7 linked regions of the Homo sapiens genome follow. The protein of the gene in region 1 interacts with the protein of each later gene in a pairwise test. Each region holds a gene or a part of one and is shown in the gene's direction. Other genes may lie near its edges.

Region 1 (3,500 bases):
AGCGGGTGAGGAAGCAGACGACTGGCTTAGGAAAATGGAAGTATATCCCAAACCTTCTGCAGAACCAAAGGAACATCATCTCTGAACCAAATCATTACTCACCACGTGAGTAATCCCTTCCCTGTTCCTTCCAGGAGGGCATTGTAGCTGTGTGTATCATTGGATGACTAAATCTACTATTGGAGGCAAGGTATCTGGTTTAAAAATGGTGTAAAGAACCCTTTTGTCAAGCTCCAGTGAGTTGAGCACAGAGCGCCTTGCACACTACTGCGGGCCATGACAGAAAGCCCCTTGGGACCCCTGGACCTCCCAGGCCAATCTAGGGTGGGGACACCATGCATAGGAACCTCCTCCTCAAATCTGGAGTGAGGCCAGCTCATTGGGAGACACCAGAGGGCCCAGAAAACAGCCACTGACAGCCACTGCCTGCTGCTCCCTGGAGACTGTAGCGCATCAAAGGGCTTTCTTCATGTGTTCCTCTATCCCACACTGCAGGGATTGCATTCCTGAATATCTCAAAGTAACTCAAGCTCTTTACTTGCATTTCTTGCATATCCTGAGGGGGGATATTTGGAGCAAACTTGTTTAAAGTTTCCACTTTTTGGTCAGGCACAGTGGCTCGTGCCTGTAATCCCAGCACTTTGGGAGGCTGAGGCGGGTGGATCACTTGAGGCCAGGAGTTCAAGACCAGCCTGGCCAACATGGCGAAACCCCATCTCCACTAAAAATACAAAAATTAGCCAGGTGTGGTGGCGTGCGCCTGTAGTTCCAACTACTCGGGAGGCTGAGGCAGGAGAATTGCTTGAACCTGGGAGGTGGAGGTTGCAGTGAGCCGAGATCACGCCACTGCACTCCAGCCTGGGCAACAAGAGTTTCCACTTTTCTCTCCTCACCTCACTCACATACTCTACCTATACTTGAGCCTCTGGTTTTTTTGGGTTTTTTTTGCTCTTTCGTCTTCCTGGGTTTTTAAAAAAATATGGAACACTTTATGAATTTGCATATTATCCTTGCTCAGGGGCCATGTTAATCCCTGTATCATTCCAATTTTAATGTATGTGCTGCTGAAGTGAGTACTTGAGCCTCTGTTGCCTCCAACACCCTGAGAAACTTGCCCCAGCTGCAGCTCTTAGGAGTTTTTCGGCCACCTCCCTCCCCTCCTTGTTCTCCATCTCCAAAGTCCTAGGAGTGTCCGTCAAGGCGAGCCCTCTGTGGAGGGGAGAATGGGGGAAGAGGCTGCACAGGCCAAGCCAGAGAGGCAGGGGCTGGGGTTCCCCTTCACGCAGAGTTTTCTGGGCAGTGGTTGCTGGCAGTTGGACTACGGTGATGAGAAGCAGTTCTTAACGTGTGTCTGTAGACCTCAGAGTCCACTGTGGGCTTTCAAATCATCCCTTCAACCCGCTCACACCTCCCGTGGGGATTTCGACCTGCATTCATCTCTGAACACTAGGCGTGTGCCAAAGTCCACACTGACAAATGAGAACCAAAGTGAACAGTCAGGGTCTCGTCTCATCTCACCCAGGCTGAAAGGTGGCTCAGAAGTGGGTCAGACTGGCTCGACCAGGCACCCCAAAGGTGTAAGACTGAGAAAGAATTTTGAGTCACAAAAGGAAAGCAGCAGTGCCATCCTCAGGAGCCCCAAATGTCACAAACTGACAAATGACTTGGGCAATGTGATTGTGGTATGTGTTGCCATGGTTTTTTCAGATATTGCATGTTCTGAGAGCTTCATGGCAGCACCCATGTGGCTTAGAAACTGATTGTGGCACTCATTTGTACAGCCCTTGCTGGTAACACAATTTTTCTGCTGGGAAGTGCATCAGTGAAGGCTTGGGAGTAGACTTATTCTGAAGTCCTGAGATCTTATGGCCTCTTACTTCTGGTAACCATCATGGGGAAATCTGGACCCAGGCACTGCTAACTAAAAGCAGAATTGTTGATGCTACAAGAGAGTTGCAGTTGACCTTGAAGTTAGGAGTCAGATCCCAGGTCTATGTGACCTTGGAAAAGTCACTGTACCTCTCAGAGCTTCAGTTTTCTAACTTGTGAAATGGGGTCTGTGTGTGGCTATGGCCTCCTGTTAGCCTGTTCCTACTTCTTTCTTTCTCACCTTAGTTGTCATATCTGGTCCCTGGTACCCACTTCTTTACCAGTCCTTGATCCTGTCTTCAGCCTCAGAGGCATCCTGGACCCTGCGTATCCCTAGGCAGCCCGTTGATCCCAGTCACCTGCTCCTAGATGCCCAGAACAGGGTTTCTCAGCCTCAACACTGTTTATGCATGGGGCAGCATAATTCCTTGTTGTTGGGGGCCTGTCTTGTGTGCTGCTGGATGTTGAGCAGCATCCCTGGCCTCTAGCCACATGATGTAGTAGCACCCCCGACCAGCTGCGATAACCCAAACTGTCTCCATACACTGCCAGTGTCCCCTGCAGACTGCCACAATTGCCCTACTTGAGATCCACTGCCTTAGGCAGCTTAATTTCTGAGGCAGAGCTGGGATCCACAGTGATTTCACCACCTCTAATTTTTAGGTGTCTGCTTTGAAACTGTCCCGACAAATACCCAGAGAGGGAGCACAGCAACCTCAAACCCTCCCATGGCAAAGGATTTGGAACTTGGCAGAATTCGAGCTAGAGGGGTCATATTTTTGGAAATAATGAAGGGTTTAATGTTCTTTGCTTGCTTTTTGTTTGCGTTTACTCCAGGAATTTCTTCTGGGTGTGAGGTGGGTTTCATTTCTTCCCCCTTTGCTGCTATTCAGTGTTCTCTGGCCTCTTCTTTCTTCCCTCCCAGCTCCTCTTGTTATTTTCAAAGGGCTCGTCTCACCTAAAGATTTTGACTTCTTCTCTTCTTGTTATTCCCTCAGCTCAATAAAAGTCCCTCAGCGGGTTTATGAGTAATGCTTAAATCCTAGAAGAGAAAGTCCTTATGGAGAAGGCAGATGAGGGGCCCGTGGGGCACCTGTCGGGCGGCTCTGAAGACTCTAAGCATGGGTTGGGGGAGGGCAGTGGACCTCAGGGAAGCCTCAGGCCACAGGGCTGCGCACGGCTTCCAGAGACAAAACTGGGAAGCTCAGAGCGTCTTGCTGCGGAATTCAGTATATGTAGAAAGGCAGCTTGGAATATTCTACCAAAGGAAGAGGGCTTCTTGTCCTTTGGAATCTACTTAAAATGTTAGCACATTGGAACTATTCAAATGTACTCTCCATTTTACTTGAAAGTCAAGGGCATTTCCTGCTGCAGGGTGGAGTGTGTGTGTGTGAGTGTGTATGTGAATGTGAATGTGGGGAGTCTGCATGTGAGTCTGAGTTTTTGTGAGTGTGTGTGACTGTGTGAGGTGTATGTATGTGTGTATGACTGTATGTGTGTGACTGTGAGAGTGTTTGTGTGACTGTGTGTTGATTGTGTATGTGTGTGAGAGTGTCTGTGGCTGGGTATGAGAGTGTGTTTGCAGATGTGTGTGTGACTGTGTGTATCTGTGTGTGTGTCTGTGGTTGTGT
Region 2 (3,500 bases), on another chromosome or scaffold:
ATTAAGATTTATAATGACAAATTCATTTCCATGTAGGAAACACTTGGAATAAAGAAAGTGTATATGAGTATATGATAGCCAAATTGACTGAGTTTTGTCCCTGGCACATAGTTAAGTGTGTAATCAATATTTTAGGATAGTTATTAGAAGCCAGATTATCAGGGGTCTACCACTTACTGTGTTATCTTGAGTAAATTATATAACCTCTCTGCCTCAGTTTCCTTCTCTTTAAGGAGAATAATTTAACTCATAGTCTTGCTGTGAGCATTCATGTGATATATATACAATACTTAATACAGTGTCAAGAACTTAATGAGTACTCAGTTTGTGTTGTGGGAATTATTATTGAAGTTCATTCAGAAATAATCTAGCCTAGCCCTCCAGGCATGCTTGTGCTGTAGCTTGAAAGCAGTACAGCAACCATCTACTTGGTAGCTTTGGCAACAAAGTTATTTTTCCCTAAGAATTTATAATTTGTGGAGGAACATGCCACCTTAGAATTTTCGTAAATTCATTTGAGAGAATGTCTCATATTTTTTTGTTCCATATGTACCCCTTCTCAGACATTTTCTGTATCAAATTCCTTCAGTATAGCATATCCTTATTTTAAGATGATAAAATTATGATACTGTGATTTTCATAAAATCCAATTATCTTTGTATTTTTGAGACAAAGTCTTACTCTGTCATGCAGGTTGGAGTGCAGTGATGCGACTAAGTCTCACTGCGGCTTCCACCTCTGGGGCTCGAGAGATCTTCCCACCTAAGCCTCCCAAATAGCTGGGACCACACTCACATGCCACCACACTCAGCTAGTTTTTAAATTTTTGTAGAGATGGGGTCTTGCCGTTGCCCAGGCTGGTCTCAAACTCCCAGGCTCAAGCGATCCTCCCACCTCAGTATCACAAAGTGCTGGGATTACAGGCTGCTCCCCACCCCAACTATTCTTTTCTTCTACTCCACCAATCCTATTATAAACATTCTAGGGAAACCTTTCATTTCTCCTTCCCCATAGTGGGATTGAGATTATGATTAAAATACCACAGTTCTAAAGTTGTTTTGAAGTCTCTGCTAATTATACAATTATAACTACACTATCAATTTTTGGCCACAAAGTTGAGAATCAGTGAAATATTTTATCATTTGTAAGGTAGGTTTTAATGATTGTTGATATATGGATGTTGGGTCGAGGGATATTTTTTGTAGTAATACACTTTACTTACTTGAATTTTGACATACTTTGAAAACGGAAGAAAGAGGTGAGCTTATCATTGTTTTAATGGGCATAGTACATAATCCATAGTCTTACTTTATTTCATTTTTAGAGACAGGGTCTCTATCACCCAGGCTGGAGTGTGGTGGTGCAGTCGTAGTTCACTGCTGCCTCAAACACCTGGGCTTCAGCAATCCTCCCACCTCAGCCTCCCGAGTAGCTGGGACTACAGGCATGTGCTACTATACCCAGCTAATTTTTTAATTTTTTGTAGAGATGGAGTCTCACTATGTTACCCAGGTTGGTCTTGAATTCTTGGCCTCAAGTAATCCTCCCATCTCAGCTTCACAAAGCGCTGGGGTTACAGGCGTGAGCCACCACACCAAGCCGGTAGTGTATTTTATTTGTGCCCTCTTCATAATGAGAAATTTTTATTGATGTATTTTTCATAATGGTGATGACTATGAATTACTGTAATTCTTGGAGAACTGAATTTCTATTTCTATTTTCTTTTTGCTTTTACAAAAAATAAGTTTCTCAGGAGAAAAAAAGCAATGAAAGGTATTTTATCACCTACCTTGGGCAAAAATAATGCTATGGACCTTAGACCACATAATTCTGTTACCAAATCTAAGGTGATGTTATTAGCACAACTTGTGCTACTGTTGTTTATATTCATAATTATTACTCTGTAAATTTTTTGTATTTATGTATTTGTTATTCTATTATAATTTTAAACTATAAAACTACTTGCTTTCTTTACATTGCCTAGGAATAATCAAGACTCACTTAAAAAATATTTAATTTAAAAATTGGACTACTGATATTTTAATTGAATATTTTTGAGATATTGAACTGATTTCACTCTTCACATACTCATAATACAGTCTGGAGAAGTTTGTGATACTTTTTACGTGTACCATCAACTTTGAGAAATTTCATCAAAATTTTAGTATACTCTTGGGAATTGTGTGAAGGACCTCTCTCATGTCTGCTGTGAGTGGGGGAAAAAATACTGCTGCTTTCCTTGTTAACATTGGGCTTAATATTTTTCTCTCAGCTGATGAATTTGAGTTACCTAAATTGATGAACTAAACATTATATATCAAATAAACTTACAGATAGCATCAGAATCATGGGTTAAAGATTAATATAAAACTTTTTTTTTTTTTTGAGACGGAGTCTTGCTCTGTCGCGCAGGCTGGAGTACAGTGGTAGGTTCTCAGCTCACTGAACCCTCCACCTCCCAGGCTCAAGCAGTTCTCATGCCTCAGCCTTTTGAGCAGCTGGAACTATAGTCTCCGCCACCACGCCCCGCTGATTTTTTTGTATTTTTAGTAGAGACGGGGTTTCTCCATGATGACCAGGCTGGTCTTGAACTCCTGACCTCAAGCAGTCTGCCTACCTTGGCCTCCCAAAGTGCTGGGATTACAGGGTTGAGCTATCATGCCTGGCCAAAACTCTTATCTAAAAGTCAAACTGAGTATGTAGTTCAGTTTCTGGCCTTAAAAATAAAGAAGATAGTAAGATTAGGTATTTATTAGGCATTAGAAAAATGTACATTTAAAGTCAAAGTAAAATGCAGTAAAATTTATGAACTTAATAAATACTATTTTAGTGTCATGCACTATTCTGTGTATTTTACATATGTTACTTTTATATATTTTGATAGCCCTGAAATGTATTTTTTTTTTTACTGTAGAGGATCATAGTGTAATCATACAATTTAAAATTTTCCTGGCCAGGGGCAGTGGCTCACACCTACAATCCCAGCACTTTGGGAGGCTAATACAGGAGGATCATTGCCTTGATTAATGGAGGCTTTAAGTCACTCTTATTTTAAATTATCCATTTAAAATATCCACTTGGGTTCCTGTAGAGATGACCTCAGTTTCCAGTGTTCCCCCCAGACGTTTGCTTCTTGCCGTAGGATCAGGAAGCTTTAAGGCACTCTTATTTTAAATTATCCATTTAAAATATCCATTTTAAGTTATCCATTTTAAAATTATCCCTGGATAATTTAAAATAAGAGTTTGAGCTCAAGGAATTCAAGACCAGCCTGGGCAACATCGTGAGACCGGTCACTCCAAAAAAAATTTAGCTGGGTGTGGTGGCATGTGTACCTGTGGTTCCGCCTACTGAGGAGGTTGAGGTGGGAGGATCACTTGAGCCCAGGAGATCCAGGTTGCAGTGAGCCATGGTTGGGCCACTGTACTTACAGAGCAAGACCCTGTCTCAAAAAAAAAAAAAAAAAAAATCCTGAATTCAAAATACTTTAGTCTTGAGAG
Region 3 (3,500 bases), on another chromosome or scaffold:
TACTCAAGTTAAATGAAGAGTGAATTGCCGTTTTCCAATTTTTTGGAAATGGTTCGTTTCTGAACTCTTTGTGGTGTTATGGGTAAGCTTTTACACTATAATCTTGAGAACCCTGAATTTAGGAATCAATTTTATACAAATTTCTATTTTTATTTCATGAGATGATGTTTGAGGGACAAAGTACAGAGTAACAATTTTTGCAAGTCACAAAATTCTCTTGATGTATTTATATTTAGTCAGCAGATATTTACATTTTACCAGTGAGGATTTGGTAATGTCCCAGGATGAAGGCTGTTGGAACTATAATCAAATCACGTAGCTCTCTAGGAAGCTTGGTGTGTTGGCCTGTTAAAAATTGGCTACTGTTGAATTTTCTAAAAAAGGATTTTTACTCCTATATACTTCAGTAGTTACAGGAGGTATAGTACTTATTAAAATACCATATATGGTGAACAGTGTCTATGATGTATTTATAAAGACTTTTGGATCACTGGAGAATAATAAATGTAGGGTAACATGTAATACTTTTAAGATGGATTCCAATAAAAAGAAGTATAGTTGCTGTTTTATTTTAAGATTGACTTTTAACATGTGCCTTTTGAGGTTGCCTTAGCTGGCACAGTTATGGGAAAGATTGATATTGTACTTTATATGTTTGTTTCTGTGGTTGGATGATACTCTTGTCTGCCTTTTCTTTTTAGGAGACCAGCATAAACACTTTGGGGACTGAGAGGATAAGCCATATCATTAGTGACCCTCGGCAGAAAGAGTAAGTGCTTATGTATTTACTGGCTGTGCTAGTCTGCTCCTTGGAGGAGGAGGCAGAGGGGAGTTTTATGGAGCAACTTAGAAATCAGGCTTCAGAGTTCAAAGAGATCTTAAAGATTTGTACGTTGTAACAGTTAAATATGGCAACATCCTAAACCTGTGGCAGTGATTTTCTTTTCCTTTCTAGACTAGTTTCACTGTATTGTTTTTTTATACCTACAGATGCTGCATTAGTAGCCTCCAGTAAAGATGTTTATTTTAAACTAATTTTTCTGTCCCTAAATTTTTTTTTTTCCAAAATGGATGATTGCCTCTATCCTCCTATATTCTCTTCCCATTTTTAGACCTTTTCATAGGGAAATATCTGTTTTTTTGAGACAGGGTCTGGCTCTGACGCCCAGGCTGGAGTGCAGTGGCAGAGTCATGGCTCACTGCAACCTCTGCCTCCTAGGCTCAAGCAATCCTCCCACTTTGGCCTCTTGAGTAGTTGGGACTACAGGCGCATGCTGCTGCGCCTGTCTAATTTTTGTATTTTTTGTAGAGACAGAGTTTAGCCATGTTGTTCAGGCTGGTCTTGAACTCCTGGGCTCAAGCGATTTGCACACCTTGGCCTCCTAAAGTGTTGGGATTACAGGTGTGAGCCGCTGCGCCCAACCTGTGAAATATCTTTTTGTTCTAATTACTGTGGTGAGTGCTGTAGGAAGCCTGTATGTAGCTACAGGAAAATAATTCTGCCAATTCTTGTGACAGCCTTGTCCCCTAAAATGGTTGGTTCTTTCATATATCTTGTATGCATCATGGTCAGTACCCAGTTATGATCCTATACACATCCAACTCGGGCTAATTTTACATAGAAAATAAAGATGTGGGTGTGGTTTATGCCCTTCATGAGTTGAGACTCTTGTCACTGCACAGCTGAGAGATCATTGGTGTCACAGTGTAATCTTGGGTTTATTTCTGTTGTTCAGTCTTTTACATTCCATTACAAGCCTTTTTCCTTTGAAGAGGTTTTTTTTTGTTTTTGTTTTTGCAAAACATTCACATACATTTAATCTCTTTCTCCTCCTCTGATTACATCTTTTCTCTATTCCCTTCTTTGTCTTTACTTAATTATTCCAACATCTTATCTTCTTCTCCCTTCTGTAATTTTCCTATCACTTCTTTTATTGTTTTCTTTCCTGTTATTCTCTCCCTCTCTTTAGTTTCTGGTTACCATCAGCTGGGAAAAGAGAACGAAATCAGGTAAGATCATTTTTCTTTGTCATCTTTATTTTATCATTTGGTTTCCTTTTCTTTAGAAAGAATAAAGCGTTGGCTTCTGATTTTCCTCACATTTCTGCTTGTGCACATGAGGTAAGGTTTCCTCTTTCTTGTTATTTTGATTTTCTTGGAGAACCGTTTTCTAAGAGTATCCAACACTTACTGGTAAAAACTGCAGCTAATTCCTCTTTGTAGGTTCAACTGTGATCATTAGTTTCTTGTAGCATATATTTCATAGGAATCCTGTTTTTATTTTAGTTTTGAACTTTGCAGTAAGAAAGCAGAATGAATCTGATTTGCATATGGTTTAGTTCAACATCAGAATCCTGCGTTGAGAAGTACTATGTTGAAGCCTAAACGTATGGAGCAGAAGGTAGAGCTGCTTTGGGTGAAGTGGGGTCAAAGCCTTAGAGCAGTGGTCCCCAACCTTATGTCACCAGGAACCATTTTTGTAGAAGACAGTTTTTCCATGGACCCGGGTTGGGGGCGTGGTGAGGGGGGTGGTTTTGGGATGATTCAAATGCATTACATTTATTGTGTACTTTATTTCTGTTGTTATTACATTGTAATATATAATGAAATAATTATACAACTGGTCATAATGTAGCTTGTGCTCCTGCAACTACACAGTCCCACCTGGGGGTGATGGGAAACAATGACAGATCATCAGGCATTAGGCTTTCATAAGGTGTGCACAACCTAGGTCCCTCTCATGCTCGGTTCACAGTAGGGTTTGCACTCCTATAAGAATCTAATGTGGCTGTTGATCTGACAGGAGGTAGAGCTCAGGCGGTAATGCCCACGATGGGGAGCAGCTGCTTGCTGACAGCTCACCTCCTGCTGTGCGGCCCCGGGGTTGGGGACCCCTGCCTTAGAGCCTCTCCTTCTTAGTCTTTTCCCTGGCTACCCCCTGAGGGGCCCCTTGGCATATTTAGGCCCATGTGGAGGGCTCACAATTTAAAAATTAACTCACAGTGGTTATCGATATGTTTCTTTATGTGTGAAGCTTTGTGATTTTTTTGGAGGATTGCATTATCTTGGTGATTAGTTGTAAAATAGATGAACACTGACAGGTGAAAAGTTGTAGGCTTCCTGTTTGTTGTGGGTTTTTTTGTTTTTTTTTTTTAACAACTTAGTAGCTTACTGAGTTGATATACACGATCCACATTTTAGACTTGGAATCTTCATTATGAATTTGCTGTTTCAAAATGAACTAGAGTGGTAGAAGACATAACTGGTGTATATGTATGAGATGATTTTAGATGGCATATAGATGCCCAATTTTTAAGTTATGTATTATAGTGTACATTGGAAAAGATGTAATTATGGTATCAAGCCTGTTATTTCACGGAAATATAGTAAGGACAAAGCTGAGCAAAAATAATTGATATGAGGAAAAATAATAAGTAAACAGTAGTACAGGTTGTAGGCAGATAAGGAAAGTCATGAAGGTGGTATGTGAGAGACTGCAG
Region 4 (4,023 bases), on another chromosome or scaffold:
AGGTAAGTGCGCATTTGTAATGGGTCTGTAGCCAGAGACATAGCAGAAGCTGCGCTATCCACAGTCACAACCAAAGGCAAAGGAAGGATGCCCTGCAATTTTAGAAATCTTGGCTGCAGCTGGGAACGGTGGCTCACGCCTGTAATCCCGGCACTTTGGGAGGCCGAGGTGGGTGGATCACTTGGGGCCAGCAGTTCCAGACCAGCCCAGCAAACATGGTGAAACCCTGTCTCTACTAAAAATACAATAATTACCCAGGTGTGCTGGTGCGCACCTGTAGTTCCAGGTACTCGGGAGGCTGAGGCACTCCTGAGTACCTGCACAATACATGCAAACACCCACCCCATCCTACTCCCCGGCCCCCCCGCCCTACTCCCCCCCTCCACCCTACGCCCCCCCGCCCTACTCCCTCCCCCGCCCTACTCCCCCCACCCCGTCCTACTGCCCCCACTCCAACACGTGCTCTCCCGTGCCCAAGGCAAGGCCAAGCCCCTGAGGCATGCGCACCTCAGCAGGCCCAACCCACAGCAAATAGTGGGAAGAGGAAAGGCAAGAGAGGAGGTCTCTAAGTGGATACACTGTTACTGAATCTAGGTACCCAGAAGATGGAGGTTGTAGTGAGCCCAGATAGTGCCACTGCATTCCAGAGACAGAGCGAGACTGTCTCAAAAAAAAAAAAAAAAAAAAAAAAAGAAAGAAAGAAAGAAAAGAAAAGCAATCTCGGATGCTCTAAGCATCATTGTGCATGTTTCCACCCTTGCACTTTGATGTGGATTCATTACTAAGAATTAATAGTGGACTTTCTCAAGGAGTGTGCTGCATTTTTACATAGTGCATTTGCGCAGCCCACAAGCTTTGCAAATCCAGGCCCAAGCTCCTGCTCCTGGAGACCTAGGAAGCATGGGGCTAGTGCAAAATCTCCCTTATCGCCATAAAATGGGCTTGCACAATTCAGCACAGCAGCTTCCCCCAAGTTCCACACTCACGCATGCCTGTCTACAGGACAACGCATGCAAGCACGCACCCCATCCTACTCCCCCTCCCACGCCCTACTCCCCCCTCCCCCACACCCTACTACACCACTTACCCCTCCCCCCCCACACCACCAACGCGTGCTCTCCCTCATCCGGGCAAGGCCAAGCCCCTGACGCATGCGCACCTCAGCAGGCCCAACCCACAGCAAATAGCGGGAAGCAGAAAAGCAAGAGAGGAGGTCTCTAAGTGGATACACTGTTGCTGAGTCTAGACACCAGAAGAACGTTGCAGGCGGCGACTCACAGTTCTAGCACTGCCTAGGAGAGCGTGGTGGCCCCAGCTCAGAATCTGCAGAAGTGCACAGCTCCATCCACACCACTCAGGGTATGGAGCCTCCGGACCAGTGTAGCCAGTATATGACCAGCTTGCTCAGCCCTGCAGTCGACGACGAGAAAGAACTACAGGGTCAGTACCTTGATGGGACACATGCTTTTGCGAACTCAGGAAACCAAGGTTCTCTGGGAGAGGCGAGTAGACTGGATGATACCCCTGCACTACCACTGCTCTCAGAGTGTAGCCCCTCACCACCTCCTTCCAACACCCTCAGGACCAATGCCTTGATCTTTCTCTTGGGGTTTCTACTTTTCCAGATATGAATGCTATGGTGCTGTCGCTTACTGAAGAGGTCAAAGAGGAGGAAGAGGATGCACAGCCTGAGCCTGAGCAAGGCACAGCAGCAGGAGAAAAGTTAAAGTCGGCAGGAGCCCAAGGCGGAGAAGAAAAAGATGGCGGCGGAGAAGAAAAAGATGGCGGCGGCGCCGGAGTTCCTGGCCACCTATGGGAAGGAGACCTCGAGGGCACCAGCGGCAGCGATGGCAACGTTGAGGACAGCGACCAGAGCGAGAAGGAACCTGGGCAGCAGTATTCGCGCCCACAGGGCGCCGTCGGGGGGCTGGAGCCTGGCAACGCGCAGCAGCCCAACGTCCACGCCTTCACCCCATTGCAGCTGCAGGAGCTGGAGCGCATTTTCCAACGCGAGCAGTTCCCCAGTGAGTTCCTGCGGTAAGCCCATTGCTCTGGTTGGCGCGCGGTTTGCAGGGAGGCGGCGTTTGGCTTTCCCGCAGTCCCTCTCCTACCCTCTCCCCTCCTGAACCAAAACCCATCTGGGGCCTGGTGTTGCTGCCGTCCCCTCCCCGCAGACCCCTGGCACCTAGTGGGTTCTGTAGTGGGGCTATGCCTATTAGGCATCATGCAGAATTTAAATGAACCAAGTTGGGCAACTTTGGGCTGAGGTCAGTTATGATAAATAACTCCTATCCCAGGCGAGGCAGAAATAAAGATGAGGAGATTAAGGTTCTGTACAGCAAGTGCAGGGTCGCATTCTGACCTTATTTAAAATTCTGAGAAGTCCGTCGTTCGTCTGGGTTTCCTTTGGTGTTAATTTTTCTAAGTTTCAAATAGTAAGTTAGAATGTCATTTATATTGATTAACGATTTTTTTTGTTATGGGGGGGTTATTTTTTTATTTTTTGGAGAAGGAGTCTCGCTGGGACACCCAGGCTGGAGTGCAATGGTGCGATCTCGGCTCACTGCAACCTCTGCCTCCCAGGTTCAAGAGATTATCCTACCTCAGCGTCCCAAGTAGCTGGGATTACAGGCGCCAGCCACCACGCCCGGCTAATTATTGAATTTTTAGTAGAGACGGGGTTTCACCATATTGGCCAGGCTGGTCTCGAACTCCTGACCTCAAGTGATCCTCCTGCCTCGGCCTCCCAAAGTGCTGGCATTACAGGCGTGAGCCACCGCCCTGATTTTTTTTTTTTTGGCATCTCCTTTATTTGTGGCATGAGAGAAATGTTCCTAATGTGAGGCTCAGCTGGGTGTTACAGAACAGCCTACTGGGTGTGGGGAGTTGGTAGAATAAAAAAATTAAACACAAGAATGAAACGACACCCACAACTCCAAATGCTGAACACGTGTGGTTTCTTCCATAGAAGGAGGCTGGCAAGAAGCATGAATGTGACTGAACTCGCAGTGCAGGTCAGTAAACCGAAAAAGCAATCGGGCAGGGGAGCCATTCTAAAACCCGCTTCAGGGCTTGGACACACTTTGACCCAGACATTGCCATCTTGGTGTTTTTGTGGCCTTTTTCATGTATAGGCAATGAGGTCTGAACTTTGGGATCTTTGTGGCTGGAAAATGCAGTAAGGAAAGCTCAGCTTGTGGAAATTTCCCATTACCAGAGGGAACATGACAATCCACGGAAAAAAAAATGAGTACTGAACTGTTTCCTTTATTCCTTGTGTATAAAATATATTATACACTTGAATAAATTACAAATATATAAATATATGTATTCCAAATTACAAATATATATAATATATAACAGTATAAATTAAATATAGCATAATATATAAGATTGAATTCCTAGCACTGGTATCCTTTAGGTAGCACTTCCATGTGGAGGCATCCTGGGGTTTTCTGACATGGGGATTATTCGAACTAATGCTCCAAAGAGCTCCATTAAACTAAACTATTTAATATATTTAAAACCAAGCATAAACTCTTTGGTTAAGAATTTATAAATGTTTAGGCATTGGGGTAAAGGAATAATTCCCAACCAGAACGTATGTTTCCTTAAGCTGAGACTGATGGCGGGGGATAGCATAAAGTTCAAGCGCCTGGCCCTCCTACTATTGTTTTTAAGTATTTGGTGAAGCCTTGTAGAGAGTGGCAGCTCTAAATTTTAATTTTCTGGAATACTTTGATATGGCAGGCTGAAAACATTGCTGACATAGTTGGTTTTGCATTATGGTAGAGATAGCGAAAAGGCTTGCAACCTTTGCAAGTTTATCTAGAAACCAAAACAAACTACAAGATCAATTTTTCATAAATTTCCACCAACCTAAGGATGGAAGTGTTAGGCAAGAATTGTATACAGTCACACTCATGGCTTGGGGAAGCTGCCCCCATTCAACTTTTGAAGCTACCAAATGCATCAGTGAATATTTTCTTGATCAATTTCTAGCATTTAAGAGATTTTTTGTTT
Region 5 (3,500 bases), on another chromosome or scaffold:
AGATGTGGGAATGGGGGCCGAGCCAATTGTGATGTAAGTTTTGTTGGGGATGAAAGACAACTGGGGTGTTTTCCTTGAGGGAGAGAGGGGTAAAGATCCTTCTTAATCCCCAGAATTAGAAACATCAACCTGTTCTTTCAGCTGTAGTTATTCCAAAAAGTCACTTCAGGCCAAAGTGACATGAACAGAAGTTCCATGTGCCATGGAGCTCTCTGGCTTGGAACATTTCCGTGAATATCTGGGAGTTGGCTCCTCCTTAAGGAGAAGTGGAAAGTCCCTTGCTGAGTTGTTCTCCACACCCATGTGGTATAAAGCAGCTTTCCACCTTGCCTGGGGCTTTCCAAATTCCCCATCCAGCTCCTGCGGCTGACCCTGCTTGGCTCCATTTTTAGTGCCCTGTTTTTCTCTCCCACTGAGGTGGGATAGAGGGTGTAAAAGCAACAGATTTGAGTTAAACTTTAAAATAAATGACCACCTTGCATTAGCTTGCTTAGGAAAAGAGTACATAAAATAAAATGAACAAACAAAAACCCATCTTGTTCTTTATCCCCCTTATTTTCTGCTTTTCATTGATTCAGATTATTGGATTCTTATTGTCAAGAATAAACTTTAAACAAACAAACAAAAAAAGGTAAATGTGACGGAAGGCTAGTTTTCAGTCATTTTTAAAAATTGTGATGCCCCGTTCTTTTTCTTACATTTGTCCCCTGAACAATTCTTCCTCTTTAAAATGTAGCAGTCCTAGCTGGGCGTGCTGGCTCACACCCCGTACTTTGGGATGCCAAGGCAGGCTGGTCACTTGAGGTCAGGAGTTCAAGACCAGCCTGGCCAACATGGTGAAAGCCCGTCTCTACTAAAGATACAAAAATTAGCTGGGTGTGGTGGTGCACGCCTGTAGTCCCAGTTACTGGGGAGGCTGAGGCATGAGAATCGCTTGAACCTGAGAGGTGGAGCTTGCAGTGAGCCAAGATTTTGCCACTGCACTCTAGCCTGGGCAACAGAGTGAAACTCTGTCTCAAAAAAATAAATAAAATAAAATGTAGCAGTCCTTTTTAAAAATGTGGAATTTTACTTGACAGTAGAGTGAAGTAGCCTGTATGCAATGATATGGGAAAATGTACATGACATATTAAGAAAAAGCAAAATGTAAAATAATTTGAATAGTATTATTAGTATATGTGTTTTAAAAATACACTATACTCTTATGTGTATTCATATGTATATTAAGAAATTCTGGAGGAATATACCAGCAGTGCTATGTGTATTAGTGCTGCTGTTGGTATCCATGGCTATTCTAGACTGTCTCTGTGATATTTGCATTTTAAACTGAATATATTACTTTTATAATCAGAAAAATAGTATTAAAAATGAATTATAATTTAATTTCTTTTTTCTTTTTTTTTTTTGAGTCGGAGTCTCGTTCTATCGGATTGCAGTGGTGCGATCTCAGCTCACTGCAACCTCTGCCTCCTAGGTTCAAGCGATTCTCCTGTCTCAGCCTCCCAAGTAGCTGGGACGATAGGTGCATGCCACCACGCCTGGCTAATTTTTGCATTTTTAGTAGAGACAGGGTTTCACCATATTGGTCAGGCTGGTCTTGAACTCCTGACCTCGTGATCCACCCATCTCGGCCTCCGAAAGTGCTGGGATTACAGGCATGAGCCGCTGTGCCCAGACTAGAATTCAATTTTTGAGAATTCATTGACAACTCTTACTTAAAATAAGGTTGCTGTACTGATGTGAGACATTGTTGTAGTCAGTTTGGAAAACAATTTGGCAGTATAAAAATGAACATACCTGTAAACCAACGGTGCCATTCCCAGGATTTAATAGCAGAGAAATCTTTGCATATATGTCCCAGGAGACATATATAAAGTGGACATCAGCCTGATTATAAGCTCTAAATGCAACCCAAATAAATACCCATCAACATTAGAATGAATACATTATTTGTGGTATAGACACAATGGAATACTCCGCAGCTGTGAAAAGGAATACACTGCAGATACACATAACCATGTGGATTCATTTCACATCAAGTGAAAAGTGAATCCCAAAAGAATTCATTGGAGTCCATAAGTGTAAGGTTCACAAATGTCCCAAACTAAACAATACCTGCATTGCTTAGATAAACAAATATGGTAAAACTGTAAAAAAACAAAACAAAACAAGACAAAAAGGGCTAGGAAATGATAAACCCAAAAGACAAAATAGCAGTTATTTCTGAGGGAGGAGGGAAGGGGATGGGGTTGGGGAAGGGCACCCAGAGAATTTTAGGAGTGATGGACTTTTCCTTAAATTGAATGGTGGGTTCATATTGTTTTGTTATTCTTTGTGCCTTACGTATTTTACAAATAACCAATTGGATCTATGTAATATTATAATACAAACTGAGTAAAGGATTAGGTTGAGGATCACAGCATTGGAAGTTCTTGGTGTTGAAGAGAGTAAGTGCCGAGCAAGTTGTGTCCCTGGCAGTTTGTTTGTGACCACCTGGTGGCTTACCCTTCTTGGTGTGGTGAGGCTTGGCATGTCACTTTCCTTGGCTGTGGCTGTTAGTACTGAATGCCATTCTCTCTGAGGAAAAGTGTCCTTCTCTTTTTTATTGATTGACTGATTGATTGAGACAGAGTCTCACTCTGTCACCCAGGCTGGAGTGCAGTGGCGTGATCTCGGCTCACTGCATCCTCTGCCTCCTGGGTTCAAGCGATTCTCCTGCCTCAGCCTCCTGAGTAGCTGGGACTACAGGCGCCCACTACCACACCCAGCTAATTTTTGTATTCTTAGTAGAAACGGGGTTTCACCAAATTATTGGCCAGGCTGGTCTCGAACTCCTGACCATGTGATCCACCTGCCTCGGCCTCCCAAAATGCTGGGATTGTAGGTGTGAGCCATCACGCTCAGCCTTTTTTTTTATTTAATTTAATTTTTTTTTAAGACAGGGTCTCACTCTGTCACCCCAGCTAGAGTGCAGTGGCACAATCATAGCTCGCTGCAGCCTCCATCTCCTAGGCTCAAGCCATCCTCCCACCTCAGCCTCTCGAGTAGCTGGGGCTATAGGTGTGCACCACCACACCCAGCTAATTTTTGTATTTTTTGCAGAGATGGAGTTTTGCTGTGCTGCTTAGACTGGTCTCGAACTCCTGGGCTCAGGCAATCCTCCTGCCTTGGCCTCCCAAAGTGCTGGGATTACAGGCATGAGCCACCACACCTGGCCTAAGAGTGTCCTTCTCGTTACTGTAGGCTTCCCTGATTGTGACTGAGGAGCTGCACCTGATCACCTTTGAGACCGAGGTGTATCACCAAGGCCTCAAGATTGACCTAGAGGTAAGTTCTGCAGCAGAATCGGTGAGAGGCTACGTACAGGGGTGACTCAGGACAAAAACTTCCACTGGGATTTTTACAAGAGAAGGTGGAATGATTACTGTTTGCTTAACACTGTGTTTATTTTTGCTTACTTTTCTCCAAAAAAATCCTTGGCATCCCATCTGGCAATAAAG
Region 6 (3,816 bases), on another chromosome or scaffold:
CTGCTCATATCATAACCAGGTCCAACCCAGCTTCTTGGCATGAGGTTTACCCTGGTAACAACTCATGTGCAACTGGTAGTCTTGACCACATTCCATCCATTTCCTCAGGTTTCTGTGGTTCAGTAGCCCAGACCTGTTTGGCAGCCATTTCTAGCAGGGGCGGGGCCTCTTTATTTCTCTCCACCCTAACTCAGACCTCACCTTCCTCCCACCCACCCCTGCCTTGCTTTTCTTCCTCTTCCCCCAACCTAACTTCTGCCATGGGAACTGGTTAAAAACACTGCTCTAAAAACCATCTTCCAATTTCATAGAGATTTCTCACAAGTTATTTCATTCATAATCCACCATGAACAGTGACTAGCTTCGTGCAGTTGTTCATGTGATGTGTGTGTGTCTTTTCCTATTCAGAACTATGTGCTTGTCAAAATTATTTCTGGGTTGATTCAAAGGGAGGACTTGCTGGGGACCAGAATCCAAACGGCCTCAAGTGGAATTTTAAAACCTAGCCTGTCTCTTTTCCCTGGGATCCCTCTGTCAACCCCACGCCTTTTAGGAAAAAGAAAAGTGAGTGAACAGCAAGGAAGAGTGTTTGCACAGTACAGTAACATTTGGTTGTTCTTAAGGCTCTTTTCTTACAAAAATAAGAGACCCTCCAACCACGGGCTGTTTAGGAGGATGCCTGCTTGGGTCTCCAAATGGCTGGGGTAGGAATGGTTGTTGGGGCAGAGCCAGTGGAGGTGAGTGACCCTGAGACTAATGAACATCCCACCTAAATCCAGTCCTCCCCTTGGATCTGCCTTTGTCCTGCTTGTGTATCCAGGCAACCTCTTTTCAAGTTGGTCAGGCTTTGGACAGGTGAGTGATTTGCTGTATGTGTTTGTTTCTCTGCGTTACCTGGGGGTGCCTTGATTAAAATCGAACTTTATTACATACTGATTCTGGAACAAAACAGTTAGAAAAACTTTAAAAAAAAAAAAACCGACAAAGTTACGAGGCCATCCTGCTATTTATCTTCTGAGTTCCCAGCAATGACTCAGGCATCAGAGATGATGCTGCAGTGGAAAACCTGACTCTGTGTGTCTGCAACTGAATGTTGTGCGAGTAATTTATTAACTGTCTTTCTAAAGGTTTGCTGCTTTTAAGATGCACTATAATTCGGGATGTAATCCTTACATTGCTTTTCCAAGGAAGGGAACAAAAGTCTAGTGATTAGTATGCCAACTGCCACTACTCCTTCAAAAGGAGCCAGGACCAGCGACAAGACTCATGAGAGGACTGGCTAAAGTGAAGTGTGCACAGTGTGAAGTTTAATGCTGTTGTCAAGAGGCCTAAACCCACATTTTCTCTTTTAATATTTTATGATTGCCATCAAAGAAGAAGAAAAAGAAGGAACAGACAAAGGTTTGAAAATGATAAGCCTGTTAAGACACCAAAAACTCCTGTCCCGTGAAGCTGCTTGACATCCTGTGGAGTAGCATAATCCTCTCAAAATGAGGAAGAGCTGCCTGCAAAGCTTTCTCAAGTCCCTATTTGGCTACCTACTTCTCTACATTATGCCCCATTTAAACTAGGAGCTGTCTTAGAAATGACTTCAAACTGCTTCACTATTGCTTACAGTTTAGGAGGAGTCTCAGATCCAGAAGGAGCAAGAATCAAGTTTGGTCCTCAAATGACTGTAAATAGACTAAAGAACAAGGTGTTTTTTGTTTTTGTTTTTGTTTTCTAAGAATAAAGCTGTTCGTTGTATCATGAGTTAGTGTTTCTTCCCCAAACTGAAGACTGTGTTGGAAGTGCAATTTCTGGTGAGTCAGTCCACAATACAATGCCCTGTGTGGAGTTGGTATTCATACAGGAAATCTGTGTGCACGAGGCATTGTGTGTTGAAAGTGTATGTTTATAGTACTGCCTGAGCCATCTCATGACCCCAGCGTCCAAAACCGATGCTGTAGAACAGAACATATCTGTACACAAATAGTGTGTGCAAATAGCATTTGTACATAGAAAAGTCTCATTGTGGCAGATTGAGCATAAATTATTCAACTGACGGTGCAAAAACATTACTTGCAAAGAAAAGTTTATAGTATTTTCCTACACTCCACCCTGGGAGATGATATTTCTATCAAATGAATATCAGTGCATTTTAAATGTAATATGAAAACGATGCTGCCATTTTGTGAAGAATACCCACTTGGTTGCAGAGGCCAACTTTCATAGCTTTGATTTAATGTTGTGACACGGTGTATGCATTTTGCTGTCAAGCAATGGATAAACAGCTCTGACTTTCATTCTCATTCCAGTTTATTGACCTCAGATAAAACACTGGCCCTTCTTAGAAGCAGAAGTGTGCACCAAGACCATTCATTTCAGGTAGACTCACATTCAGTGCCAAGTGCTCCCATGGGAATAATCAGACGCATATGTTGCGAAAGAGTGAAGGGACTTGGACAAAGAGGGGTTTTCCTACAGATGGATGCTCAGTCTTCTACCAAAACATGTTTGGAGGCAGAACTATGACCTCCCCTTAAGTCCTAACAATGTATTTTGTGTGTGCAAATCCTGGGATGCCCGTTTCACGCTCTGACATAAAGACATGGCACCTCTAGTGAGTGATCAGGAAGATTCCATATGCATTTGGGAGCTTCAGGTGCTTGTTAGACACAGTGAGCCATTCAAGGCAAGCACCACCTTTGCTAGTGAGGCCAAGAGAGCCTGTGACAATTTGACAATTTGTTCCAGAACCAGTCTGATGCAAGTGCACCTCTAATATATGCCTTACAAACTCCAGAGGCCATATTCAAAACAGGGTCTTCTCAGTGTATGCAAGGGGCTGCAGCCCCTCTTCTCTTCCTCCCCAGGTTGAACAATACGGACAGTTTTCACACATATCTACCTGTATAACCCTCTGTACCTCTCATAACTGGTCAACGACTGTAACAGGTTACATCAGGTGTTTTTCTACATACTTTTTACACAGATTCTATGCGATTAATGTAATTTAATTCAATGCATCATTTTATTGTACTAGTTCTTAGGCTTGTCCTTATTTTTTTCTAAGTGATTGTGGTTTTTCTCGTGGTTTTTATTGTAAAAAATGAAAGGCTGTTGATGCTTATTCTCTGTAACTAAGAATTTTTACCTTTTGGGGGAAAAAAGCATTGCTATGAACTAATGAATTGAAACTTCATTTACTCATTGTAAATACACTATTGTGCAAAAAAAGTTTTCACTCAATTGAATTGCTAGTGTTAACTGAATTTTGTCTAGACACCATTTCTGTTGATGAAATAAAGACATATCATTATGCATTGTAAACTGATTTTCTCTGCCTCTGATCCCTATGTTCCAAATTACAGAGTGAGAAACCTCAGGAAATCTTTTTTCCTAGAGGCCATTTCTCTTCCTCTAGTTTGGACCCTTACTTGCTACCTGATTAATCTGATTAGGAATCTTTAAAATTGGATAATATTAATGTGATTCCTAAACTCTGAATTTTAAAAATCCCTAGTGCCTGTGAGAGTAGATAAAAGGCTTTAAACCCAATTTCTCGGTTTTGATATTGTGCTATCGCTATGCAGAATGTTACCACGGGAGAAAACTGGGTGATGGGTATCATTTCTTGCAACTGCATGTGAATCTGCAATTATATCCAAAATAGGCTGAATTTTTTAAAAACTAAATGAAAGTAAATGAGAAAGAACATTAAGCCAACACCAAGATGCAGTGAGTTGCAAGGAAAGATGTTTAGAATTGTGGTTGAGGAATCCATACAGTCATGCATTGGTTAGTGAAGGGGGTACGTTGTGAGAAATGCATCCT
Region 7 (3,500 bases), on another chromosome or scaffold:
CCGGAAGAGTGGTGCTCACCCTGGACTGTGTCAGCCCCTTTTAGATGGGTTCTACAGCGGCCACGTGAGGATTGCAGCTAAAGAGAATCTGAAACGCAGCGGGCCCTTGGCCAGTAGGTCTCGCGGCTTGTTTTGTGGCAGTACTGAGGCAAATAGCTCAATAGCCCAATTCTCCTCTCCCTCTCATACCTTCCTTGTCTACCCTTCCGGATCTGTTCCTCAGGGAAGAGTGGCTCCTAATATATTTAGTCTCTGAAAATTAAATGTCCCAGGAGACTGTTCCGTTTAAAGGGAGTCTCTACGTTGACTCATAGCCAGAGTCAAAGACCCATGTGTTCCAGCTGAGCCCCAGGGTGTTGGGGGGGCCTAGCCCCAGGCATGCCTTCCAGACCCTCTTAGGGCCTTCTCTGCGGTTTTTGGGCCTCCTCTGCCTTGGGGTGAGCCCGATGGTTGTGGGTGTTCACCTCCCAGGCCCTTGTCTCCACAGGGAATCAGAACTTCGAGGAGTCCTCAGCCTATGGCAAGGCCATCCTGCCCCCGAGCCAGCCATGGGCCACGGAGTTGAGGAGCCACAGCACCCAGAGCGAGGCTGGGAGCCTGCCTGCCTTCACCGTGCCCCAGGCAGCTGCCCCGGGCAGCACCACCCCCAGTGCCACCAGCAGCAGCAGCAGCTGCTCCACGGTGAGCAGCCCTCTTATGGCGAGGACACAGAGAGGGCTCCGTATGTATGACTGCTGCCAGATGGCTGAAGGGACATTTGGGACAGGTACTGTCCTTCTCAGGTTATCACAGAGCCCCCTAGAGTGGCCGTGACACTTACCTACCAGGTATCAGAGCTGTTTTCTTCCTTTTAGTGTTCATCCCCCAACTCCATTGAAATAAGCTCCTTGAAGGGCTTTGAGCCCCCAGCTCAGTCCCCATACAGGGCAGTAACATCCCGTATGTGGCACAGAGCTGCACAGTTTGCACAGCCCTGCTGGCCACAGCCTGTATCCTGTTTGGTCCTCAAGACAGGACAACCTGTGAAGCGACAGTAGCCTCATTTTATGATGAGGAGACTGGAATTTAGAGAGGTTGATGAATTGACCTAATTCATACAGCTTGTTAATTAGCAGCCCCTCTACAAATAGTTGTGTGGTGGAATGGAATTGAACCTTTGGGTCCAGGAAGGTATTTCTTCTTCCATGCTGGACTTCTGGGGAGACCAGTGCCATATCTTTGACTCTGTCCCCCTCCTTCCTGGCCCCTAGCCCAATAGCCCTGAAGACTATTACACATCTTTGGATAACGACCTGAAGATTGAAGTGATTGAGAAGCTCTTCGCCATGGACACAGAGGCCAAGGACCAATGCAGTACCCAGGTAGATGGCTGTGGAGATCAGGCTAGGGTGTGTGCCTGCTGTCTGGTGGACAGCAAAGGCTCACATCCATTCTTGTAGCCTCATCCCTTTGTTGTAAAGAGCAGTGGAGACGTTTGGCCAAGGCCCAGGTCCCCTAAAGAGGTAGGGGTACAGGGTAATGGAGCCTGTGGTCACCCCCTCCTCCCACTGTCAAATCCAGCTCTTCCAGCATATGTGTCTCCTACTTAGATAGCTTTCTTAGCACACATGAAAACCGAAATGATACCACTGCACCTTTCTTTAAACAGGCCCTACATTTAACAAGCATAGCCAGATGTATAAAACATGTATAAACATAGGGGACAATTAATCCCTTTATAAACACATTCATCTTGTGATTTTAAAAAAATAATCATTTTTATATGAAATGCACTTTAAAATAAATAACATCTGTTTGACAATTTTTCATTTACATAAAACTTTTCAGGAACACATTTATTACATAAGGCCAATGTTCTTGCAAAAACTATGTAAACAAGGATAAGGTAGAGGGAGGGGTACGTGTTTTACAAAACCCCAGGGAAAACCATTAATCCCCCATTTGTCTTAGTCTTGAGTTCAACCAGATTTCTGCCTTGCCACTTAGTTTGTTTCTTGATCCTACTTGGCACAAATCCCAGCTACTCTGCAAAACATGCCCAATTTTAGCTTTTCTATCACCCTCCCTCCTCAGCACTCCTGTAGTATATATCATGTGGCACTTAATCACAGCTATCTGCTTCTGCTCCTTAAAGATTGCTTAGTATTGCAGTCATTAGTCAGCTGACACCCACTGAGGGTGTCAGTCTCTGAAGTTAGAAACTGTTTTCCGCATCTGCTTGTATTCCCCTGCTTGTATCATGCGTCCGTCATGATACTGCCACCCTAAGGGATGATCTGAGTATCTGCTGATTGGAACCAAAGTCTCTGTCCCTGGGGTCTGGCTGTTAGGCTGTTACTCTGCGAGAGTCCACAGATGGACCTGGGCACTTACTGCTTGCTTAGGCCCGTGCCAGCTTACAGGAGGGAGAAGAGGACAAAAAAAAGCCACAGTGTGCACCACAGGCCTAAGCATTGTAGGACAAGGATAACCACCACAGGCTGGAGTAGGCAGGGCTGACTCTGTGGAAGAGGGGCTGCCTCGGCTTCAAGAGAGAAGGCGGGCTCCGGACAGGTGGGATGGGGAGAGGAGAACATTTCTCAATGTGCAGGGTGAAGAGGGGATAAACATGGGGGAAGGCTGGTACATGATACAAGGTCGTGTACATGACACAGCCAAGTCTGAGGTTTTCCTGATAGGCCCTCGGGAGCCAGTGGAGGCGTTTGAGCAGCACTGTGAAACAGTGCTTGAGATGAATGGCTCTGCAGGAGCTGAGTTGGAATAGTGTTTGTGAGGTCGTACCAACCCCCTTGCCTCTTTGCCGGTGCTGTCTCCCCTCAGACGGATTTCAATGAGCTGGACTTGGAGACACTGGCACCCTATATCCCCATGGACGGGGAAGACTTCCAGCTAAGCCCCATCTGCCCCGAGGAGCGGCTCTTGGCGGAGAACCCACAGTCCACCCCCCAGCACTGCTTCAGTGCCATGACAAACATCTTCCAGCCACTGGCCCCTGTAGCCCCGCACAGTCCCTTCCTCCTGGACAAGTTTCAGCAGCAGCTGGAGAGCAAGAAGACAGAGCCCGAGCACCGGCCCATGTCCTCCATCTTCTTTGATGCCGGAAGCAAAGCATCCCTGCCACCGTGCTGTGGCCAGGCCAGCACCCCTCTCTCTTCCATGGGGGGCAGATCCAATACCCAGTGGCCCCCAGATCCACCATTACATTTTGGGCCCACAAAGTGGGCCGTCGGGGATCAGCGCACAGAGTTCTTGGGAGCAGCGCCGTTGGGGCCCCCTGTCTCTCCACCCCATGTCTCCACCTTCAAGACAAGGTAAGTGGCAGATACTCAGCTGTACCAGCAGGGCCGAACCGAGAGGCACCCACTAGTAAGATAGCTGGACCCCCAGGGAGGCCCCTGCCCCTCTCCCCAGCCATCTGATACCCCATTTAGCCCTTCTCTGAGCTCAGACTTTGGGGAATCACCTCAAGCCATGTGAGGCCTAGTGTAGGATGGGTTTTT

What was found.
Region 2: the proteins of BATF3 (region 1) and ATF2 interact in binary tests that used the Homo sapiens proteins (3 or more experiments, as listed by UniProt).
Region 3: the proteins of BATF3 (region 1) and GPATCH2L interact in binary tests that used the Homo sapiens proteins (3 or more experiments, as listed by UniProt).
Region 4: the proteins of BATF3 (region 1) and RHOXF2 interact in binary tests that used the Homo sapiens proteins (3 or more experiments, as listed by UniProt).
Region 5: the proteins of BATF3 (region 1) and STAT3 interact in a two-hybrid assay, tested with the Homo sapiens proteins (one large-scale study listed by BioGRID and IntAct).
Region 6: the proteins of BATF3 (region 1) and BACH2 interact in binary tests that used the Homo sapiens proteins (3 or more experiments, as listed by UniProt).
Region 7: the proteins of BATF3 (region 1) and EPAS1 come close enough for resonance energy transfer, tested with the Homo sapiens proteins (one large-scale study listed by BioGRID).

Annotation. Positions count from the first base shown.
Region 1 is NC_000001.11:212,689,841-212,693,340, reverse strand, and holds part of BATF3 (basic leucine zipper transcriptional factor ATF-like 3), read left to right. Parts: intron 1-973; exon of another isoform or gene 974-1,077; intron 1,078-3,500. UniProt on the Homo sapiens protein: AP-1 family transcription factor that controls the differentiation of CD8(+) thymic conventional dendritic cells in the immune system.
Region 2 is NC_000002.12:175,158,204-175,161,703, reverse strand, and holds part of ATF2 (cyclic AMP-dependent transcription factor ATF-2), read left to right. Parts: intron 1-3,500. UniProt on the Homo sapiens protein: Transcriptional activator which regulates the transcription of various genes, including those involved in anti-apoptosis, cell growth, and DNA damage response.
Region 3 is NC_000014.9:76,175,922-76,179,421, forward strand, and holds part of GPATCH2L (G patch domain-containing protein 2-like), read left to right. Parts: intron 1-701; coding exon 702-769; intron 770-1,970; coding exon of another isoform or gene 1,971-2,066; coding exon 2,067-2,121; coding exon of another isoform or gene 2,122-2,223; exon of another isoform or gene 2,224-3,500.
Region 4 is NC_000023.11:120,157,390-120,161,412, forward strand, and holds the start of RHOXF2 (rhox homeobox family member 2), read left to right. Parts: upstream 1-1,223; 5' UTR 1,224-1,361; coding exon 1,362-1,440; intron 1,441-1,625; coding exon 1,626-2,037; intron 2,038-2,968; coding exon 2,969-3,014; intron 3,015-4,023. UniProt on the Homo sapiens protein: Transcription factor maybe involved in reproductive processes. Modulates expression of target genes encoding proteins involved in processes relevant to spermatogenesis.
Region 5 is NC_000017.11:42,325,943-42,329,442, reverse strand, and holds part of STAT3 (signal transducer and activator of transcription 3), read left to right. Parts: coding exon 1-33; intron 34-3,243; coding exon 3,244-3,327; intron 3,328-3,500. UniProt on the Homo sapiens protein: Signal transducer and transcription activator that mediates cellular responses to interleukins, KITLG/SCF, LEP and other growth factors. Once activated, recruits coactivators, such as NCOA1 or MED1, to the promoter region of the target gene.
Region 6 is NC_000006.12:89,926,028-89,929,843, reverse strand, and holds the end of BACH2 (transcription regulator protein BACH2), read left to right. Parts: 3' UTR 1-3,316; downstream 3,317-3,816. UniProt on the Homo sapiens protein: Transcriptional regulator that acts as a repressor or activator. Binds to Maf recognition elements (MARE). Plays an important role in coordinating transcription activation and repression by MAFK.
Region 7 is NC_000002.12:46,377,407-46,380,906, forward strand, and holds part of EPAS1 (endothelial PAS domain-containing protein 1), read left to right. Parts: intron 1-487; coding exon 488-681; intron 682-1,250; coding exon 1,251-1,361; intron 1,362-2,820; coding exon 2,821-3,311; intron 3,312-3,500.